Linked DNA regions of Homo sapiens. The protein of the gene in region 3 purifies or fractionates together with the protein of the main gene of each other region. This does not show direct contact. Each region holds a gene or a part of one and is shown on either strand. Other genes may lie near its edges.

Region 1 (3,648 bases), on a different chromosome or scaffold from region 3:
GCCCAGGAGGTTGAGGCTGCAGTGACTCATGTTTGTACCACTGCACTCCAGCCTGGGTGACAGAGCACCCTGTCTCAAAAAAAAAAAAAAATTTACAAGACAACCAGTCTGGATTCTTCAAAAAGTCAAAGTCATATGAAAAAGGGGGGAAAAAAAATGAAGAATGAGGAACTGTCTTTAATAAGAGAGACTAAAGAGAAAAAAAACAACCAAATGCAGTGAATGAATTCTGGTTGGATACTGATTTTAAGAAACAAGCCAAAAATAGGCATAAAGTTATTTTGTGACAATTGAGAAATTTGAAAACTATTAGATATTATAAAATAATTGTTACTAGGTGTGATAATGTAATTTGGTTATGCAGAGGAATCTCCTTATACTCAGACATAATTAGGTCATGTCTGCAATATTCTTTCAAATGGTGCAGGAAAACAGTAAAATCTCTATAGATAAAGCAAATATGGGAATCATTTACTGTTGAATTGACTAGAGGGTAAATGGGGGTATTTGATGTATTCTTTTAACTGTTCCACGTGCGAGCAAGAATGATGACTTCAAAGAAGATGAACGGAAGTGGGCTGGAGTATGTCAGGCGTGGGAACCGTGCTGGGGCTGTAAGGGGAAGGCCAGATCCCTAGGGCCTGGTAAAGCATTCTGCACTGCCTGCCGATGAGAAACTCCTGATGGTCAGTCAATTCAAGCAGCAAGTGGCCCGGTCCAGGGACACGCTAGGAAGATCCTCTTGCTGTTGCTAAGGAAAATGCCCGGTTGGGGACAGGCCGGGAGGCAGGTGCCAGTTAGGAAGTAGGCAAGCAGAGACCACCAGAATGGAAATGGGAGACACATGAGGAGACAGCAGTGGGTGTGTAGACAGATGTATCGCGAGGGCAAGGGGAGAAGAGCAAGACACGGCCCCCACGTGGTGTCACTAGTGAGATGGGGCAGGCAGGAGCAAGGGGGGTATGGGGGCACAATGAGTTCATGTTTTTTCTTTCTTTACAGAGATAATCGAGTTAAAACAATGGGTTCAGTGAGTCGGGGTAACAATGTTGGAGAGAAGACCCCTGAGAGCCCTCCAAGCACACATGCCCGGGGGCTGTTACAGAGGTGGGCACGGAGCCCAGAGAAGAGCCCAGAGAACACGGCTTTGGGAGTCACCAGCACATCCACAGACACCCCAAGGGGGAAGGAGATGAAGGCCTAGAGGAGAGTCCCCTGGAGAGGGAGGACCCTGAAGACAGCCACGTATCAGGCATGCTGGGGGAGATCTGCCCCTTGGCCCAGGACTCCGAGTCCCTCAGGAAGCGCTTGCTGACACAGCGCTGATGGAGCCGCCGGCAGAAGACGGGAACTCTCATAGTGTAGGAACAGCTTTGAAGTTCTACGTTTTAAATTCAAGAAGCCAATTTGCTAACATTACCCATCATTTAGTTCCATCTCAATTTAACAGATGGTAAAACCAACAAGCAGATATTAATTTTTTCAGTAATGACAATTTTATGACTAAACCTTACATTGCATGTTTACCTAGATATGATTAGAGATCAACTTCTGAAGTGAACATATCACAACCCCTAAAACCAAATACTTAAGACCAACCCTAAACAGTGAATAATGATGCCATGTGGTAAAGCCATAGACACTGGCCCACGGTGTTGTTGAAAAGAAAATGCTCATTTATTCTTGTGAACGCCATTTGTTGTAGGCTATCAAGCGTTTACCAGGTGACTTGTGCTGGCACCAGTGGCCCAGTGAATCAGTCAATAATGTCCAAATCATGTGTTGATTTTTAGAGATTGTTTATATTCGACACAGCTTCAAAAGTTAAATAACATTACCGTTGGTGCCTCCATCTGCCACAGGGAGCACAGAAACCCCTTACACCATCCCCATCACACTGAGACAGGGCAAGCGACCTGCAGTTTCAACAAACATTTATCTTGATGCTGCTGTTCCAGGGGATCCTTTCAGTTTCTGATTAACTGACAATAATCATTATTTTCCAGCCTTTTATTTTAAGATGAGGTCTCACTCTGTCACCCAGACTGGAGTGCAGCAACACAATCAGAGCACACTGTAGCCTTCACTTCCCAGGCTCAAGTGATCCTCCCAACCCAGCTTCCTGAATAGCTGGGACCACAGGTGTACACTACTCTGCCTGGCTAATTTTTAAATTTTTTTGTAGAGATGGGGTCTTGCTGTGTTGTAGCTGGGAACACAGGTGCACATGACTCTGCCTGGTTAATTTTTAAATTGCAGAGATGAGGTCTTGCTGTGTTGCCCAGGCTGGTCTCCAACTCCTGAGCTCAAGCAATCCTCCTGCCTCACCCTCTCGAAGTGCTGGGATTATAGGTGTGAGACACCTCACCTGGCAATCTCCAGCCTTTCAGAAAGTTCTGAGGTTTTTATACATCCCATATTTTGATTATTGGATTTATCAGAACATAATATTGAGTTAGGTCAAAACTCAGACATGAGCAGGTACAGCATGATGGATGAAGAGGAGGCTCTGTCAAGCTGCCTGGCTTCAAATCGTGTTCTCTAAGTTAAAATCTCAATGGCTTCCCTGTGCCTCAGTTTCCTCACCTAGAAAATGATGATGATGATGTTTCTCAAATGGAGTTAATATACATTAGAATGATGTCCGTCACAGAATGGCACTACATTAGCATTCACATTCATTTTTATTAATAAATGTGAATTATTAATTAATCAATGTGAATGCTTTGACAGACATACACTGAATTCATCCTATTAAGTAGAGGTGAAATTCAACAGGAACAAAGAGAAGGGAGACTCACACTGAAGGCATTCTTGTCTCTTACCAGCTTCCACAGGCTCTGTCAGTCTCCACCTCAGCCTTGCCCTGGGCTGGCACCTGCCGGGGCGGCAGTGGCCCAGACGCCTACCCAACCTTACTGTACACTTGCGGGCTCTCAGGTGCTCCCAGGGCCGGCGCAGTGGGCTGCAGTTCCCACAGGTGGCCACACGAGGGCATCTCCGGCGTCAGCCGGCAGCCACAGCCTTGGGAGGCCAGGGAGCACTAGGGGGCCCCCAGGTGTTCATCCGGTTCCCTTCTAGTCTGGGAGGAGCCGAGGGCAGGGTCCAGGAGGCAGGACTTACAGGAATTTGATTGGCATAGACAGTGGCCAATCAGATGTCCGGGCTGTGGGAGCGGAGGCCCTGGGGGAGGGCGGGTATGACTACTGACCCCTCGCCAGGGCGGCACCTGTGCAGACCCAGCCACGTTTAGCTGACTGTGGGCCCGAAGGAGGCCGGCCATGGGGCGTCGGCCGCCTCTGAAGGAACCGATGGCCCACGCCCACAGTACCTACCCGAGGGCTCAAACGTGCGCTGAAAACACGCCCGCGGGGCCACTGGCACAAGCGGAACCCGCCGCTTACCTTGGGCTGCGTATCGACAGGAGCCGTCCTCCACCAGCACGTTATAGAAAGGCTGGTGGTGGCCGTGCGGCAGGCTGTGGACGTTCATGTTCCGGATCCACTCGTGTCCCATCATGCAGGTGGGGTCCCAGCCGTAGATCACACAGTTATAGCCATACCTAGTTAACACAGGAGGAGCAGTCAGTCCCTGCAGACCCGGCCGCAACAACCTCCAGACAACCGCGTGGCTTCTCAGCTCACATCC
Region 2 (3,648 bases), on a different chromosome or scaffold from region 3:
GTACACTAATCCCATTTGTGAGGGCAGAAATCTCATGTCTAATCACCTTCCAATCACTTCCATAATCACCTTTTAATACCATCGCCTAGGGGGTTAGTTTTTAACATATGACTCTGGGGGAGGAGAACATACATTCAGACCATAGCAATCCCCAAATACTTTAGTGTGTATTTTCTACAAAGAAGGACATTTTCCTGTACTAGCAGTATAACCATCAGAAGTAGAAAATTAACATTGATTCATTATTACCATCCAATCCTTAGATCCCACTGGAGTTTCGCTTGTTGTTCTGATAATATTTTTCTAACAAAAGAATCCAGTCCATGGTTATATGTCACATTTAGTTGTCATGTCTTTTTAATCTTCATTAGTACAGAACAGTTTCTCAGTCTTTCTTTGATTTTCATGACCTTGACACTTTTGAAGATTACAGATGAATTATTTTGTAGAATTTCCTCAATTTGGATTTTTCTGATGCTTCCTCATTATGAGATTCAGGCTATACATCTATGGTGGGAATTCAGGGAAGTGATATATCCTATCAGGTGACACATGATTTCAGTTTGTCCCAGAACTGATGATATTCACTTTAATCCCTTGATTGAGGTGGTGTCTCCCAGGATTTTCCTCTGTAAAAGTTTTTTTCCCAGTTTATAATTAATATGTTTTTTGGGCTGGGTGTGATGGCTCACGCCTGTAATCCCAGCACTTTGGGACGTCAAGGTTGGCAGATCACTTGAACCCAGGAGTTGAAGACTAGCCTAGGCAACATGGTAAAACCCCATCTCTACAAAAAAATACAAAAGTTAGCCAGGTGTGGTGGCATGTGCCTGTAGTTCCAGCTACTTGGGAGGCTGAGGTGGGAGGATTGATTGAGCCCGAAAGGTCGAGATTGCAGTGAGCAGTGAGCTGAGATTGCACTGCACTCCAGCCTGGGTGACAGAGTGAGACCCTGTCTCAAAAATAAATAAAAATAGAATTAATATGTTTATGTGAGATAGTACTATGAAACTGTAAATATCTCATTCTTTATCTTACTTTGATTTATTCATTATTTTTATTTGTATGGAATCATTGTTTCCTATTTTATTTAATAGGTTATAATCCATTACTATCATTACTTATTTACATGATCATCTTGTTCCCAGTTTGACCAGGGAGAGCCTCTTCAGTGTGGCTTCTGTGACTTCTTTTGTCTTTTGATATATCCCTTTCATTCTTTGAACATTTCCTTGCTTTTGGTACAAGATCACCTAAGCTCATCTTGAACATTCCATGCCCTACTCTTGGAACCAGCCATTTCTCCCAGAATGCCTAGCTCCTTTTAGTGGATCTGGGCACTAATGTGCTCTTTGCTTTTGAAATGTCATTGTTCCCAGATCCTCTTTTTTCCCTCTCCATACATGTAACTGGAGTTCCAGAAGGCAAAGAGGGAAAGAATCCATAGACTCCCATAGACCCCATAGATTTTGAGCACTCCGTTGTGATTTTTTTCTGCCAGTCTTCTTCTTTTTGTATTTCAGTTCAGTAATTTCTTTTTTTGTTGTTGTTTTGTTTTGTTGAGTAGGGTCTCACTGTGTCACCCAGGCTGGAGTGCAGTGGTACAATCATTGCAGGCTCATTGCAGCCTCAAACTCCTGGGCTCAAGCGATCCTCCTGCCCCAGCCTCCCAAGTAACTGGGACTACAGGCATATACCACTATGCCTGGCTAATTTTTTTTAATTTTTTGTAGAGAAGAGATCTTGCTGTGATGCCCAGGCTGGTCTCAAACTCCTGGCCTCAAGCGATCTCCTGCCTCAGCCTTTCAAAGCGCTAGGGTTACAGGCATGAGTCACTGTGCCTGGCTCAGTTCAGTAATTTTTATTGGTCTATCTTCAGGTTCACTGATTCTGTCCTTGGATGTGCCCGGTCTGATGATAAACCTGTTGAAGGAACTTTTAATCTGACTTTTTTTTTTTCCTGGCATTTGTATTTGACTTTTTTTTTTTTTTTTTTTTTTTTGAGACAGAGTTTTGCTCTTGTTGCCCAGGCTGGAGTGCAACGGTGCAATCTTGGCTCACCACAACCTCCACCTCCTGGGATCAAGCGATTCTCCTGCCTCAGCCTCCCGAATAACTGGGATTAAAGGCATGTGGCACCAAGCAGCTAATTTTGTATTTTTAGTAGAGATGGGGTTTCTCCATGTTGGTCAGGCTGGTCTCAAACTCCCGACCCCAGGTGATCTGCCCACCTTGGCCTCCCAGAGTGCTGGCCTTTACAGGCCTGAGCCACTGCACCCAGCCTGTATTTGACTTTTTATTGTTTCCATCTCTGCTGAAATTTTCTATCTATTCATAGATGTTGTCTATCTTTCTCAACTAGATCCTTTAACATAAACATATTAGTCCAGCCTGGGCAATATAGCAAGATCCTGTGTATAAAAAAATATAAATAAATAACATAAACATATTAATCATAGTTATTTTATATCTCCTGTCTGATCAAACATCTGGCTCATCTGAGAGCCTGCCTCTGTTGTTTACTTATTTCCTGACAGTGGGTTTTTTTTTTTACTTTTTGTATGTCCTGACATTTTTAATTGAGTGGTAGTATATTAGTTTTCGTTATAGTCATGAATTGGGCTGAATTTAGAGTTCATTGTATATCAACAAAGGCTTCAAATTCCTCCAGCAGTGGACTGCTATAACCTTGTGATTTGAGGTTACCAAAGGACATTCCTCAGTGCTTCTGCTTTACCCTCAGCCTTCAGCTACTTCTGCACATGTGTGCCACAGAAGTGTCCTCTTTTCAAGTACCTGCCTCATCTGCCGCACTAGACTGCTGCTCTTTGTTTCCTGGGGCTAAGCACACGGTGAGGGCAAGTGGGGTTCTTGGATCTCTGGTGCAGTCTCAGTCTTAGGCAGACCTCTGTGAGGGGCAGGGTTTTCTCAATATTCCTGCCTCTCCTATCTGTAGCAGCCAAACTTTGCCTTGAATCTGTGGTGGGTCTTGGGCAAGACATATTTTCCTGCCCTTCCTGGAGAGCTGGAGAGGTAGCAGATCCTTACTTTGTATCAGTGAACTGTCCTGGGCCCAAGAGGTTTTCCTGTGCCTCTCCCAGAGGCAGAGTTTTTGCTTCTGCCTTCCTCCAGACACAGTGGATCTTTGCCTAGTCCCTAATGGCAGGCCCAATTCCTGCTCTTCCTACAGCTTGAGGCTTTGGTTCCTATGAGAGAAGAGTGTAGGGAAGTGCCCAGGTTTCATGTCTGTTTCTGAGCACAGCCAATCAGCTCCCTGCCCCAGTCTTTGTTTTGAGCACTGGGTGGAAGCCTCTGGAAAACAGCCTGCATGTGAATGGGAAATCTACTTGTGTCTGGAGCTTCAAAAAATTCCACATTGACACACTTTCCCACACCCAGCCTTTCGTAATTGTTCAAAAGTTTAGCTGATATTTTCTTATTCTTATCTGTGGCAGCCATTTCTTCCCCCCATGCACTGCCAAAGGTGAAACAGTCTTCCCTCTCTCTTTAAAAGGATTTGTCACTCTTTGGAGGGCAGTTCACTTCTGTGCTTTATGACCTCAAATCTTTGATGGGCTCAAGAAAAGTTTGGCTTTGTAGATTACCCAGTTTTTGGGGTTTGTGTGTGTTTGTGTGTTTATTTGTTCA
Region 3 (4,228 bases):
CTTTTTCTCACCTCCAGGCATCCAAATTAATCCAAGCCCTGAATACCTGACATCTTTAACCAGAGCACAGGAGTGAGTTTCTGTTTTGGTTTCCTTATCTTAAAGCTGTTATTGTTGTTAGCTCTAATTAGCTACTACTGCCATTTTTAACACTATGTGCCATACACATACATTATCTCATTTAACTCTCATTTTAAAAACCTACAGGGAAGTCTATTACCACCCCCATTCTACAGATGATAAAACCAAGTCCCCCGAAAGTGCAGCAATGACCCAAGTTCAGAGAGCTGACAAGCAGTGGAGCTAAGCTTTGAACCTGGGTCCACTCAAGTCATGCTCAAAATCTTTTGGTGATAACGGCCTCTCCAGGCCTCAATCAAGCTAATAAATTATTGGATTTGATATGAGAAGCACCCTAGGGCCCTGAGTCCCAACTGGGCCGGTCTTCATAGAGGTGGGGTGCTGTGGAGCGCTGGCTTGTAAAGCGGATGGGCCAGCTAAGAGTCACCAAAGCCCACCTGCAAGTGAGTCACAAGAGAAACTTTGCCTCTCTCCAGTGTCACAAAACACAACTGGATGTGTTAACAAACACTAACGAGGGCTGTAAGCATCAATGAGATGGAGCCAGCTGCAGGGTGGGGGAGGGCAGGCACTGGCCGGCCACCTTCAGTTAGCTTCGCAGATCAGGGGACTGGAGCACTGCCCTCCTGCTGTCTGCTCATTCCGCTACTTAAACCAAAAGTCACCTCTTAGGACAGAAACGCTAAGTTGTGTATAACTCTTGGGAATGCAGACTCCTCCACCCTCTTCTGCAGGTCAACATTGGTCTTCACCACTACACCACTAACCTGCACCACCACCCCAACCCATACACACCCCACACCCCTCCTTCTTTCTTCTGTTCTCCTTCTGATTCCTGGATCTAAACGCTGGGTGCCAGATCGAAGGAACAAAGGACGCCATTTGATGCCCAGCTCCGGGACCCCCGCCAAACACCTGGCCTCTCAATCCTATCTCCCACAGACCCTGAAGTTGGGCACGGGCACCAAACTAGGCCCTCCCTGAGTCCTTGCCTCAATTTCTCCCATCCAAGAAATAGTGAGACTAAGAAACAGGGAGACTAAGGCTTCTGGTTCCTGAGATCACATTAGTGGCTCTTGGGTGGAACTTGGGAGAAAGCATGCCTTGGACCCCATCCAAGGAGAATTAGCTTCAGCACTGCCAAAGGATTTTCTCCTAAGTGGCCAGAGTTTGCCTTCCATACCCCCACCTCCTGTTTCCCTGCTCTTTTAATCCTGTAATCCTGCTGCCTCGCCTGTGGACATTTCCTTGTGGAGGAAGCAGCATGTCTACTTGGGGCTCCCAGCCAACTTGGGAGGATTTTGCAGATGAAAAAACAGAGGCTCAGAGAAATGAAGTAACCACCCTAAGGCTACACAGGTCATGGTATCCTATGTGTCTTTCTCTTCCACCTATCAATTCCTTGGTCTTCTCCCAATGTATTCATCAAGCAGTATGGGGACCTGAATCCCTCAGGAGACATAGAGGCTGCCATATATTGACAGCCAAGCAGGTTACACACAACTCATTCCAACTTTGCCACTCCTTTTCAAGATGAAAACTGTTCTTTGCTCCATTTTATGGACAAGAAAACTGAGGCTTAGAGAAATTAAATGACTTGCTCAGGGTCTCGGGGTCCATAAATAGAAGCAGCAGTAAATGTCAGAGGCTGCCATGTTCCTCTAACAAAGGGATGACCAGATGTCTCCACGTTGTGTGGAATGTGAGTGTCCTGGAACATCAAAGCAAGAAGACCTCAAAGATGATGAAGCCCATTCAGTGTAAAGGAAGGGTAATTGAGGCCTAGAGAGGGCGAGGGACTTACTAATGATTACACAGCCAACAGGAGATTTCCCAGATCCCAGCATGGGGTGGTACTGGCAGGAGAAATCTATCAACTGGGTTGATTTGGGGTTTAGATGCCCAGCCCCGGGGCCTTGAGCCACGCCTACCTGCCAGTGAGGAGCTGGCTCCGCGAAGGCGTGCAGATGGGCTGGATGTAATAATTCTCCAACTTGACCCCCTTGGCCGCCAGCCTGTCCAGCGTAGGGGTCTCGATATCTGAACCATGGTAGCCCACGTCGTGGTAGCCTTGGTCGTCCGTGAGGATGAAGATGATGTGGGGAGGCTGGGGCGGAGCGGCCGAGGGCTGCTCGCCAGCCTCCCCGGGCCCGTCGGCCACGAAGCTCGGCTTGGCCCAGTCCCAGGACAGGTAGCCGAAGCTGAGCAGGCTGACCAGGGAGAAGCCAGTGAGGGTGTGCATCGCCAAGCCGGCCCGCGCGTCCCGGCGCGCCGGGCTCCTGGGGCCTCACCACCTCGCGCGCCCAGGGCGCACCACCGGCCCGCCGGCTCGGATGCTGCGAGGGAGTTCAGCGCCCCCCGGGGACGGTCCAGTGTCTGGTCCGGGACTGGCTGCCGGACGGCTGGGCCGGATCTGCTCGGCCGCAGCGGGGCGCTCTGGGGAGGTCAGGCCCGCGCCGAGCTGCCTCCCGCTGCCTAAGCGCAGGCCCTGCGCCGCCTTTGCTCCCTCTTCCCCAGCTCAGCCCGGCCAGCCTGAGACGCGGCGTGGCAGCTTCCAAAAAGTGCTCTCTACCATCCTCTGACTCCCCTCTTCCTTCTTGCCCTGGATTTCTCCCGCCTCCTAATTTCTCTCTCCTCTGCTTTCCCGGCCTCTCGCCCCACCCGGAGTCCTTAAAACAGCCCAGCTCCCTGCAGGGAGGTGGGCAGGACCCCAGAGGGGAAGGGGAGGGAGGCACAAGTTGGGCGGGTCGAGGGGACACGGCGGGAGAGAATTCGAAAAAGTTGTAACATCTGCCGGGCCGGGCCGAGCCCCAGGTGGAGGGGCGGGACGCAGAGCAGCGGCTCCACCTCCCGGGCGGGAAGCCCCGGCCCTCTCGGCCTGCTGGCTCCAGCGCCCGCCCCTGACCGGGATGGGGAAAGGAGGGAGTGGGGCTGCTTGGAATTCGATGGAACAGCTCCAGAATGGCTGGGTCAGACATTCCTCGATCATGGAGTCTTAGCCTCTCTGAGTGCCAGCCCTGGAAGGAAAGCCCATCATTTCCTAGTCCAACCGGGTCATTCTACAGATGGAGAAACTGAGGCCCGGAGATGAGCCTCAACGCGTCTAAGTCACAGAACAAGTCAGTGGCTATGTCTCTAAGGCTCACCGTGGCTGTTGGAGTGGCGGCTCCCTTCGGTGAGCCGGTAGAGAAAGCGATGGAGAATGGCAAGCACTTTGGCAAGCCCCCGCGGCTGCAAGTCAGGAAGCTTGGTTGTAGCCTTGCCAGCTCCCCTCTCCTCAACCCCTCCCTCCTCCTCGTTCTGCAGTTCCCAACTAGAATCTTAGAATGCCAGCGCTGGAATCCAGAGGGCAGGGGCTGTTTTATCCATCTCGTATCCACAGGGTGCAGCACACAGTATAAGCTCAATCAGTATATGTTGCATGAGTGAATGGATGAATGGGCCCCAATGGTCACCTAGGCCAGCCTACCCAAGGAAACCTCCACACCAGAGAAGGCAAGCTTGGGGGACTCTGGAACCCGATGAGCATCATAAATGAGTAGAGCAAGAGATAGTTGTCTTGCCCTAAGGAGACACAGGGGCTGCAGCAAGTTAAAAACCACAGCCTGGCTTCCAGCTGACTACAGTCAGGCAAGAATACGGACCAGTGTTTCCAGATCTTCTGATTTTTCAAGAGGAATACCCTCTTTATCTATTAGGAGAACTATTCCAATTGTGAAATGTTAGTGACTAATTGAAAGCAAAATTTAAGCACTTTGTAGGCCAAATCAGACCTCTCCCAGGAATATATCAGACCATCGGTGCCGGTTTGCAAGCTCTGCTCTGCATCATTGTTTTGCAAAATTTTACTAGGCTACATTTTTAAATGGAAAAACTGGGCTAAACAAAACCAGTTAGGCTTCTTTACTTCTAGGATTTCAAATGTTTAACATGCACACTGCTGATCTGCAGGAGGGGCTGGTTAGGCTGTATTTCCCAGTGTTATGTTACCATGGACCCTCTTTCCTGCTCCCCCCACCCCCCAACCAGCTTCTTGAAGGGCCAGTGTTTGGGGACTTTGGGAAGCAAAGACTGCCCAGGTGCATCTTCTCTCCTAGCATCTTTCCCCTGCCAAGATTCTGTCATGATCCCTTCCCTCTTACTTAAA

The links.
Region 1: the proteins of ARSI (region 3) and FBXO21 purify together in Homo sapiens (affinity purification with mass spectrometry; one large-scale study listed by BioGRID and IntAct). This does not show direct contact.
Region 2: the proteins of ARSI (region 3) and AHCYL2 purify together in Homo sapiens (affinity purification with mass spectrometry; 2 studies listed by BioGRID and IntAct, with this or other methods). This does not show direct contact.

Annotation. Positions count from the first base shown.
Region 1 is NC_000012.12:117,152,387-117,156,034, forward strand, and holds part of FBXO21 (F-box only protein 21), read right to left. Parts: intron 3,563-3,648; coding exon 3,405-3,562; intron 1-3,404. UniProt on the Homo sapiens protein: Substrate-recognition component of the SCF (SKP1-CUL1-F-box protein)-type E3 ubiquitin ligase complex.
Region 2 is NC_000007.14:129,392,463-129,396,110, forward strand, and holds part of AHCYL2 (adenosylhomocysteinase 3), read left to right. Parts: intron 1-3,648. UniProt on the Homo sapiens protein: May regulate the electrogenic sodium/bicarbonate cotransporter SLC4A4 activity and Mg(2+)-sensitivity. On the contrary of its homolog AHCYL1, does not regulate ITPR1 sensitivity to inositol 1,4,5-trisphosphate.
Region 3 is NC_000005.10:150,300,051-150,304,278, forward strand, and holds the start of ARSI (arylsulfatase I precursor), read right to left. Parts: upstream 2,856-4,228; 5' UTR 2,324-2,855; coding exon 2,013-2,323; intron 1-2,012. UniProt on the Homo sapiens protein: Displays arylsulfatase activity at neutral pH, when co-expressed with SUMF1; arylsulfatase activity is measured in the secretion medium of retinal cell line, but no activity is recorded when measured in cell extracts. Lacks arylsulfatase activity.